Linked DNA regions of Homo sapiens: region 2 is linked to region 1. Evidence: fine-mapped expression QTL. Tissue or cell type: whole blood. Region 1 holds a variant in brackets; the other region holds the start of a gene. All regions are shown on one strand. Distances are from middle to middle.

What was found. PIP is the estimated chance that this variant, and not a neighbour inherited with it, causes the effect.
Region 2: GOLGA7B starts here. The variant in region 1 is fine-mapped to the expression of GOLGA7B in whole blood (TOPMed, PIP 0.99).

The regions. Positions count from the first base shown.
Region 1 is chr10:97,822,394-97,827,778 of GRCh38, forward strand. LOC107984260 (a long non-coding RNA gene) reads left to right here. Exons shown (of 3, transcript XR_001747563.2): 1 at 1-295. Among named protein-coding and RNA genes, the nearest start is that of GOLGA7B-DT, 25 kb to the right of the region's middle. The variant C/T (reference allele first, on the strand shown) is at 2,892.
Region 2 is chr10:97,846,725-97,852,109 of GRCh38, forward strand. GOLGA7B (golgin A7 family member B) reads left to right here and starts at 3,119. Exons shown (of 5, transcript NM_001010917.3): 1 at 3,119-3,591. The coding sequence starts at 3,580. GOLGA7B-DT (GOLGA7B divergent transcript) reads right to left here and starts at 3,074. Exons shown (of 3, transcript NR_108035.1): 1 at 2,942-3,074.

The DNA.
Region 1 (5,385 bases):
AGGTCCTGAGGGCTTTTGAGATGTCCAGGGCAGGGTTCTGGTCAGAAGCCAGGCCCAGGGGGATGCCGGGAGGGAGTGTTGTCCACCTCTGGTGAATGGCGCTGCGGGGGTTCTGGGCACCATGGAGTCCTCCTCTCAGCTGTGATGTTGTCAGCGCCACAACCTTCGATGGGAGCATTGGGGATTTCTGGCTGGGCAAACTGAGCCACTATGGACTAAAGTTGCTGGGAAACCTGGGATGAGTCACTTCCCTTCTCTGGGAACCCTCATTGGTAAAATGAAAAGGTTGAACTAGGTGAGTACTAAGGTATATTTTTTATTCTCCTTGGTGGGTACAGGTTGGTGTTCCTAAATTAGATACCACAAATATTTACTGAACCCTCATGTCCCTGCACTGTGCTAGGCAGCTCTATGCAATTATTAAAAAAAAATTTTTTTTATTTAGAGATAGTCTTGCTCTGTTGCCAAGGCTGCAGTGCAGTGGTGCGATCTTGGCTCACTGCAGCCTCAACCTCCCAGGCTCAAGCAATCCTTTCATCCCAGCCCCCTGAGTAGCTGGGACTACAGGCGCACACCATTACAGCCGTCTAATTTTAAAAGTTTTTGTAGAGATGTGGTCTCCCTGTGTTGCCTAGGCTGGTCTCAAACTCCTGGCTTCAAGAAATTCTCCCTCCTCAGCCTCCCAAAGTGCTGGGATTATAAATAGGTGAGAGCCACTGCACCTGGCCTTTTTTCTTTTCTTTTTTTCTTGAGACAGAGTCTTGCTCTGTTGCCCAGGCTGGAGTGCAGTGGCACGATCTCAGCTCACTGCCACCTCTGCCTCCCGGGTTCAAGTGATTCTCCTGCCTCAGCCTCTCAAGTAGCTGGCATTACAGTCGCACGCCACCACGTCTGGCTAATTTTTGTATTTTTTTTTTGTTTTAGTAAAAATAGGGCTTTGCCACGTTGGCCATGCAGGTCTCGAATTCCTGACCTCAAGTGATGTACCCACCTCGGCCTCCCAAAGTGCTGGGATTACAGGCATGAGCCACCATGCCCGGCCTCAAATATTTTTTAATAAGGCTCATTTGCTGCTAGTTAGTGCATTGGGTAGGGGCCCATGCCGGTCAGGCCACATCAGGGTCTCAGGCCAGGGCAACAGCTGTATACGTGTCAGTCGTCTGAAGGATTAGCAAGGGAGTGTGGCCACGGCTCAGGCAAAGGCAGAAAACACCTGACACCGAGAGGGAAGGGCACGGTGGGCTCTGATGCTTGTCTGAATTTCCCTCAGCAGCCCCATTCACCAGATGGGCCCTGGGACTCGCTCAAGGTCCCATAGCTGGAAGTGATGGGGGCCCTGGGAGGACCCAGGTGTTCTGATTTCAAGCCCGGTTTCTTGGGAGGAATGCTCATTGTTTCTATATTCTCTATTTGGAAATATCTCAAGTAGACACGATGGCACCAGGAGCAAGAGGCCACTGGGCAGAGAAGGCAGGGTCCTGCGTGTTCCTGATCAGGCCTGCTCTGGTCTCAGGCTGGGGAGGACACTGTGTCCTGGTGCTCGGCGGTGTCTGGCACAGATGGGCGTGTGTGGGTGGGGCAGGAGGAGGAGCAGTTACCCGCAAATGGAGCCTGCGTGCTGGACACGGAGAGTCTCTCCCTTGTCAGGCCTAAGGGGACACCAGGAGCCCCCCGGGCAGGAACAGTATCTGGGCGGCCAGCGGTTGGACACAGGGCTGCAATAGGGTCTGATTTTGTTCCTGAGGAAGAAGAGACATTTGACTGGTCAGCCACAGAGGGCAGACGAGGATTCTGGACGCAGATTTCAGCGTGGCACAGCCTGTGTACTCACTGCTGGGGCACTGCCACCTGTGAGGTGATGAGCTCCCAGTCCCCCGATGAGTGGTCTTCTGTGAGGGTGTGGAGGAGGGGACTCCATGAGGGAAGGGCTGGATTAGGCTGGTGGTCCCCAACATGGCAGCACATCAGAATCCCTGGAGGAGTTTGCTTATGGTACAGATCCCCGAGTCGCCCCCCGAGCCCCCACTAGATAGGACTCCCCAGGGATGAGCTGCACAACCTCCACGTCAGGCCTTCAGAGGCTGGGGCTCCATTTATCCCAGCCTCCCTTACCCACCCCTGAGATACGCTGTTGAGGTTTCAAGCACAGTGCAGCTGCACATGTAGTAGCAGTCCATAGACAGAGAACAAACGGCAACCTCAGGAGACTGCGGATTCAGAGCTTAGTCAGTGGATTTGGTGGCTGCACACAGCTTGGACAATGGCTTCCCTGCAGGCCACTCAAGAGACTGATGTCAGGTGTCATGCCTTTGGGGATTAAGATGCTGAAAGGGTTTTGATATCTTTCAAGGGAAACAGAGCTACAGGGCCTTCAACAAGCTGCTTTGCTCCTGCGGTCAGTCCAGTTCAACAGTAGTCTCTGGCTGGGTGCGGTGGCTCACGCCTGTAATCCCAACACTTTGGGAGGCCGAGGCTGGAGGATTGCTTGAGGCCAGGAGTTCAAGACCAGCCTGGCCAACATGGCAAAACCCCATCTCTACTAAAAATACAAAAATTAGCAGGTGTGGTGGTGCACACTCGTAATCCCAGCTACATGGGTGGCTGAGGAACGAGAATTGCTTGAACCCAAGAGGCGGAGGTTGCAGTGAGCCGAGATTGTGCCACTGCATTCCAGCCTGCGTGACAGAGCCAGAGTCCATCTGGAGAAAAAAGAAACAAAAAACAAAAAACAAACGTGGCCCCTGATGAGGGGGAGCCTGGTGCAGTAGGAAGAGTGCGGCCAGGGGCAAGTCCAAAGCCTCCTCCTGTCTCGCTGTGTGACTTTGAGCTAGTGTCTTACCCCCTCTGGGCCTCTCATTTGTAAAGTGAGGGCGTTGCACCTTCAAATCCTC[C/T]CTGACCTGGCATGTTACAATACCTTGAGTGACCAGGATCTGGGGTGTTTGCCTAGTGACTGGCATCAAATGTTGTTCTGACCTGTTCCTTGCTGTGGCATCTCCCCTCCTTAGTTACTTGTTTCCCACTGTCTGCTGGAAGTGTGGCTGTCCTGGCTAATCAGGCAGGAAGGCCTGGTAGCAATGGAGGCAGGGCAGTTGGTGGGCGGGAAGGAGTGAGCACGTGGACCTTCCAGGCAGTGGGGCCGGCCAGGGGCAGGGTTCCAGGTCCCAGGGCAGGGGAAACTGCCAGGAAACTATAGGCCCTGCCTCAGAGAGAGGACTGGGGCCAGAAGTGGGGGATTCTGGCTTAGTACACTAGCCCTTGAGGCCCATGAGGCCTCCCAAGAGCACGGTGGACAAGTGTAATGTATAGGATACTCCTGGGGTTAGGGACGGGACAGGCAAGGAGACATTAATGCCACATCTTGAGGGCACATTCAGGGCCAGGCATTGCATTTGTACAATTTCCAGATTTCACAAAACTCATGGGAGTGGATATCACTTGCCTCATTTATAGACAAAGATAGGAAGGCCCATGTTAAATGATTTGCTCATGGCCACACAGCCAGTGAGAGGCAGAACGGGATGTGAACTCAGGTCTGGCTGATTCTAAAATGCACAGGGCTCCCTCTGCATCGTGCACCTCCTCCTCTGTTACAAGCATCGTTCTTCTGAAGCTCAATGGCACCCATCAGCTCAAGGCTCTGCGTGTATCTGTCCAAGGTCAGGGGTACGTGCACAGAAATGGACATGCATGAAGGAAGTGTGACTCAGAATTAAATTGCAACAGAGAAATTTAAAATCACCTAGGCCAACAGAGTGTCAGCAGGATTTGAGCCTGAGACCTGTCAGGTTGCAAAACTGATTGCTGGGGAAACTGAGGTTGATGAGCTCCAGCCCCCGGCCATGCGCTCACATGGTATGTGGGAGGCCAGCTGCGCAGTAGTTGCAATGCCTCATATTTCTGGGGAGGTGGCCATGAGCTGCTGTGCTGGAGGCAATCAGGGAGGGGTCCCCCAAAGGGGCAAAGTTTGAGTTGTCTCTCAAAAGATGGGTTGAAATTCACATGCCAGTTAGGTATGGGAGAAAAGAGTTCTAGGCAGCTGGAACAGCATATGAAAAAAATCAGAGGCCTGGAAGGATGCGTGGAGTTGGGGAAACTGGGAGTAGCTCCCTGGGGTGGGAGGCTGGGTGCAGGTGAGAAGGGAGGTGTGGGAGACGAGGCTGGGCAGAGGAGCCAGAGCGTGGGCTGGATTATGGAGGGCGTGTATCTGTGTGACCTTCTGACTTTGGCCAAGCCTCAGTTTCCTCAGCTATAAAATGGGAGAAATAAGGCCGTCTGTCTGTACAGGTTGTTGTGAGATGTAAACTAGACAGTAACAGTGAAGTGGGTGGCAGTGAGCCTGGTGCAGGGGCAGTAACTGGCTGTTGCTGCTATAGTTGGTGATGGTGATGGTGATGGTGATGGTGATGGTGATAATAATAACTGGGTTTCCCAGTTTTCTTTCATCTGTTCTCAACACAGTAGCAAGAGTAGTTCTGTTAAGACATATGGCAGATAATATCCTTCCTTTGCTTACAAGCCTCCAGGGACTCCCCTTTCATGCAAGGGAAAAGCCACAATCCTTGTGACAGTCTTCAGGCCCTGCCTGACTTGATTTGCCCCTTAGCATACTCCCTGTGTTCCCATGCTGCTCCCTTCCTGTCACTCTGCTCTAGCTGCTGGCCTCTTCACCATGCCTGGAACTTGCCAGAGTACTCCTGCCTCAGGGCCTTTGCACTTGCTGCTCCTGCACCTGGAATGCTCCTCCCCAGGTGTCCGTATGGCTTGCCCTATCTAGCCTCCTTCAGGTCTTCAATCACATGTCACTTTTTTTTTTTTCAGACAAGGTCCTGTTCTGTCACCCAGGCTGGAGTGCAATGGTGCAATAATGGCTCACTGTAGCCTCAACCTCCTGGGTTCAAGCAATCCTCCTGGGTTGGCTTCTTGAGTAGCTGGGACCACAGGTATGCGCCACCATGCCCAGCTAGTCTTTTAAAATTTTTTGTAGACATAGAGTCTCACCATGTTGCCTAGGCTGGTTTCAAACTCCTGGGCTCAAGCAATCCTCCTGCCTTGTCCCCCAGAAATGTTGGGATTACAGGCGTGAGCTACCATGCCCAGCCACGTCACCTCTTTAGTGAGGTCTTTGGTTGTGCTGCCTAAAATTGCAAACTGCCCCCTGGCCCTTGCCAGCACCCTGCCCCCCCTCCCCATCTTTCCTCCCTCTTCTATATCCCTTCTAAGTGTTGATCACCTTCTAGTTTATTATGTATTTGTGTTGCATTGCTTGTTACTCCCGTTAGAACATAATGAGAGCAGGGCCCTTTGCCTGTCTTTTGCCCCACGGTATCTCCAGCGTCTAGCTCAGAATTGGTGCTCAGCAATATGTTATTATTTTTTATATGATCT
Region 2 (5,385 bases), 24 kb after region 1:
CCACTGCAGGATTCATAGATATTCTGTTTGGTCCTTTATGCCAAATCCTATGCCAAACTATAAGGTAGAATGAGACACCCGCCTTTAACTTCTTTAGCATGTCACTTACACTCTGGGACTCAGCGTTTTCATCTGCAAAATAGGCAGCTGGAGATGTGGTCATTGCTCTGCTAGTCTATGGTCTACCAGATGCTGGAGGGAGGCAATACAGTTAGGAGGATCAACCACACAGGCTCTGGAGCTTGACTGCCCATGTCTGAATCCTGTCTCCATTCCCCACAAACCCTATGACCTTGGGCAACTTACTCAGTTCCCTCATTTATAAAGTGGGAATAATAAAAAGATCACAAGAACACAACTCAAAGAGTAATTGTGAGGATTACGTAAGATCATACATGTAAAGTGTGTAGCATATGGGCTGGCACATGGTAAGTGCTCACTAAATGTTAGCTACTAAAAATGAAAAGTTCTGGGAAAATTTTTGAGGGGTCATCGCTATTAATGTGTTTTAGGGGTGACAAACTGTTCTAGAATATTAGATAATATGGGCATTTTAAAAGCATGATAATTGGCTGGGTGCGGTGGCTCATGCCTGTAATCCTGGCATTTTGGGAGACTGAGGTGGGCGGATCACCTGAGCTCAGGAGTTTGAGACCAGCCTGGCCAACATGGTGAAACCCTGTCTCTACTTAAAATACAAAAATTAGCTGGGTATGGTGGTGCGTGCCTGTAATCCCAGCTACTTGGGAGGCTGAAAATCACTTGAACCCAGGAGGCAGAGGTTGTAGTGAGCTGAGATGGTGCCACTGCATTCCAGCCTGGGTGATAGAGCAAGACCCTATCTCAATAAAATAAAATAAAATAAAGCATGAGAATGGTGTTGTGCCTAGTTGGGATAACGCTTTTCTTCTTGGGAGATGCATGGTGAATTGAAGTACTTACAGATAAAATCTCATTGAAGTACTTACAGATAAAACCTCACGATGTCTGTCACCTTATTATTATTATTATTATTATTATTTTTGAGACGGAGTCTCGCTCTGTCACCCAGGCTGGAGTGCAGTGGCGCAATCTCGGCTCACTGCAAGCTCTGCCTCCTGGGTTCATGCCATTCTCCTGCCTCAGCCTCCCCAGTAGCTGGGGAGTAGCTCCCCAGGTGCCCACCACCACGCCCGGCTAATTTTTCTGTATTTTTTAGTGGAGACGGGGTTTCACCGTATTAGCCAGGATGGTCTCAATCTCCTGACCTCATGATCCGCCCACCTCGGCCTCCCAAAGTACTGGGATTACAGGCGTGAGCCACCGCGCCCGGCCACGATATCTGTCACCTTCTGATAATCTAGGCAAATATAGCTCTGTTTTCATATCTATCAATAAAGCAAATGTGGCAAAAAGCAATTGTTGGAGCTAGGTAGATGGCATAGTTTATTGTACTATTCTTTCAACATTTTGGTATGTTTAAAAATGTCAAAATAAAAGGTTGGAGAAAAAACAAAAGGTCCTAGAAACAGTCTAGTGAAATCCAACACTCACATTTTACAGAAAGAGAACCATAAGCTCAGAAAACAAGACAGTTGCTCGAGGTTATACAGCTGGAAAAGCCTGGGCCAGGTCTCTTGGCCGCCAGGTTCTCCCTGTGTGTGGGCTTCAGACTCTCAGGCAGCAGTGAGCTGCAGAGGAGCACACCCCACCACCCCTCAAAGAGACCAAGGGGTATTATGGGTATGTAAAAAGGCACTTGTGTTGGTGTTTCCTTTTTTTTATGTCTATTTTATTTATTTATTTATTTATTTATTTTTTGAGACAGAGTTTCGCTCTTGTCGCCCAGGCTGGAGTGCAATGGTGTGATCTCAGTTCACTGTAACCTTTGCCTCCCGGGTTCAAGCAATTCTCCTGCTTCAGCCTCCTGAGTACCTGGGACTACAGGCGGGTGCCACCATGCCTGGCTAATTTTTTTTTGTATTTTTGGTGGAGATGGGGTTTCAGCATGTTGGCCAGGCTGGTCTTGAACTTCTGCCCTCAGGTGATCCACCCGTCTCGGCCTCCCAAAGTGCTGGGATTACAGGTATGAGCCACTGCTTCCGGCCTTATTTTTATTTTTTTAAGAGACAGGCTCTTGCTCTATTGCCCAGGCTGGAGTACAGTGGCACAATCATGGCTAGCTGCAGCCTTGAACTCTTGGATTCAAGTGATTCTCCTGCCTTAGCCTTCTGAGTAGCTGGGACCACAGGCACACATCACAACGCCCGGCTAATGTTTTCATTTTTTGTGCAGACAGGGTCTTGCCCAGGCTGGTCTTGAACTCCTGGGCTCAAGCAATCCTCCCACCTCAGCCTCCCAAAGTGTTGGGATTACAGGTGTGAGCCACTGCACCTGGTCTCCTTTTTATTAAACAAATAGATCATTTAGTTGGAATTTATGATGTCAAAAGTGCGAAGGTGGCACCAGAGCCAGACCTGCCATCCTTGGAGAGTGAGCATACCGGTTTGGCACCATCTGCTTGTGGTTTTTGAGTGGTGGTGGTAGTGGTGGTGCGTGTATGTAAACTCGGGTTGCAGAGGAGAGAGGGAAGAGTAAAGGGTGGGGACCAGGTCCAGGAAGAGCAGCAAGGAGAGACTGGCTTCAATTCTGGAGCTGCCTGAAAGAAGGGACCCCAGGCTATGGCTGAGAACGAAATGTGGGCACGTATTTAAAGAAAGGAAATGATTCTCTGCGGTCGGCAGGATCTTTGTCTAGCTAGTGGGGTTCCAGGAAGTGCAAAGGAGAGGGGAAAAGAGGGGCCGTCCGTGCAAGCCTGACTGTGTGTATATGGGGGGGGGGCACACAGAGAGGAAAAGGGAGAGAAAGAAAAGAAATTATTCTAAAGAGGAAGCTGGGGGCGGGGCGAGGGAGGGGTAGAGCCGGGGCACTGGGGGTGGCTGGAAAGGTAGAGAGGCCTCACCTGCGGGCCTGCGAGCGGCTCGGGAGCGGTCAGCCTTGCAGGCTGAAGCGTCTTGCCCCGGAAAAATTCCTGCCCCACTGTCCTTCAGGCTGGATGTCCCGGGGGCCACGGAAGCGAGCGCAGAGCTCCGGGGCTCTCACGAGGGGGAGGGCAGGAAGGGGAGGCGGGGCCTCGCGCGGGGCGGTAGCCGAGCCTGTGGCCCGGGCGGGGCTCCTCTCCGGCGGCGCCGGAGTCTGGGGGCCGCGGCTTCCCCCTCCCGGCCAGCGGCGGCTCCTGGCCCCTCCTCCCCCGGCCGCCCCCATCCCCGCCGCCGCCGCCGCCAAAGCTAAACCCGGCCGTTGCCTGCAGGAGCCGCGGCAGCGGGCGATCGGGCCGTGAGGAGCCTCGGGCGCGGCCTCGCCTCCCGGGCCCGGCGCCTGCCTCAGCACAGCGGACAGCGCCGCGCCCCTTGCCTGGACCCAGCCGCCCGCCCGCCCCCGGCCCACCTGAGCCCGGGCCCGCGGCGCCCGCATCAGCACTGCGGACAGCGCCCCGGGCCCCAGCTCGCCGCCACCGCCGCCGCCCACCTGCTCCCGGGGTCAGCACCGCGGAGACCCCCCTCGCCCGGCCCCGCGACAGCCTCCGAGCGCCCCCGGATCATGGCCACCGAGGTAGGGGCGAGCGCCCCACCCGCAGGCAGTGCCCGATTGCCGCGGGACCAAATGCCCTAGGGGTGGGCTGGGCAGGAGTGGGAGGCGGGAGTTGGGGGTGGGATGGGGTGATTCCCCAGGTCAGGTCTGGAGGGAGGAGGTAGGGGCTTAGTGAGGGCTCATCTCCCCCTTGCGTGTCAATCTTCCCCTCGCCCCACCTGAGCCCCCAAGCTGTCCGCGACACTTGTTGGCATTAGCGCCAGGGTTGCTTCAGGGCCCCAGGCTGGGGTTTCCCCTTCCCTGGACTTCACAAGTCCTGAAACCGCTTTCCTAGAGGGTTGGAGACGCGTGTGTGTGCGTGTGTGAGGGGAGGGAAGGCGGCTGTCCGCTGTTGCTATGCAGTCAGCTTCTGAACCCAAAAGCTTGGCTAAGGGATGACAGACTTACCTCTACATCCGCATTTCCTTTGCGGGAGGGAGGGGACAAAGACATCCTCAGGCTGAGAACCCAAATGGTTGGTCTCCACTTTTGCATATCACCCTTCTTGCTTTTTTACCCCATTCGAGTTTTTTTTTTTTTTTTGTCCCAGGGTGTCCAGATTTCCCCTCCATCTGATGGGAGTTTCTGCCTTCTTCAAGGTGCACTGATAGGTGTGTCACCTTCAAGCACTTGAAGGCTGAACCACGGGGCCTGTTAGCTAAGGGCAGAATCTTGGTATAATGCTTGAGGTCGAGGATTCCCCCCTCTACCCCTAGGGATTGCCCTTTCCCCCCTCATTTCAGGAGGGAGATTGGGCTCTTTATGTTCCCACTTTATACATGATAAAGGTGATGTGTGGAAAACGAAAGGACTAATTTGCTACTCCACACAGCATGTCAGCAGCAGAGCGGAAAGTTTTTGCCTTTGAATTTTTGGAGCGAAACTCAGGACATCAGGGTCTCCCCAGTTCTGATGTTGACTTCCTTTGTGGTGTCTCCCCATTTCCAATCCAGCTGGCATACACTGGGGGAGAGCAGAGGCCTGTGAATGATTCAATGCAGTGCTTCTGGGCATCCTGGTGAGCAGTGTGACATTAATACCAAGTGTGGCTGTTGTTATTCCACTCAAGTTTCCACCACAGAACAAGGTGCTGTTGCTTGGCATTGCTTGGCATTCTGACAAGGCACAAGGTTAGCTAGGCGGAGAGTTGCCCCTCAGGACTTGGTGTGAGGGCAAGCCCTGGGCAGACCCTGGGAGCTTGGTTTCTAGAGTAGAGGAATGCAGAGTACTCACAAAGCACCAAAGACATGGAGGACAGCAGGAAGAACAAAGGGAGAAACCAAGGAGTTGGTTACCTTCCAGATAGGGCTGCCAGACTGCAGCAGAGGCTGCTGTGTTGGACAGAAAAGGGGAACTTCAGCTACATGGGCATGGCTGGGCCAGCAGCGTGGGCAGAGAAGGCAGCTGCCTCTGCGATGTGATCTGACAGATTCCAACAGGCCCATCTGTCCCAGGATGTCTGCCATGGCCCACAGATTCCAACCAGCAGGCTTCTATCTCTATGTCAAGACAGCGTTTCCAGGAGGCTGCTATGAGACATGTGTGACTCTCCCCTGGGAGGGGCTCTGCTCATAACGCCTCTGAAAATATTGCGCTTTCCTGTGTACAAAGCACTATCGCATAAGTGATCTCTTTCAAGCCTCAGAGCAGCCCTATGAAGTGGGTAAGGATGGTGTTATTATGCCCAATTAACAGATGAGACAACTAAGGTTCAGAAACTTGCCTGGTCCCTGTGAAGGAGCCAAAGAAGGCATCATTATCCCATTTTACAGATGA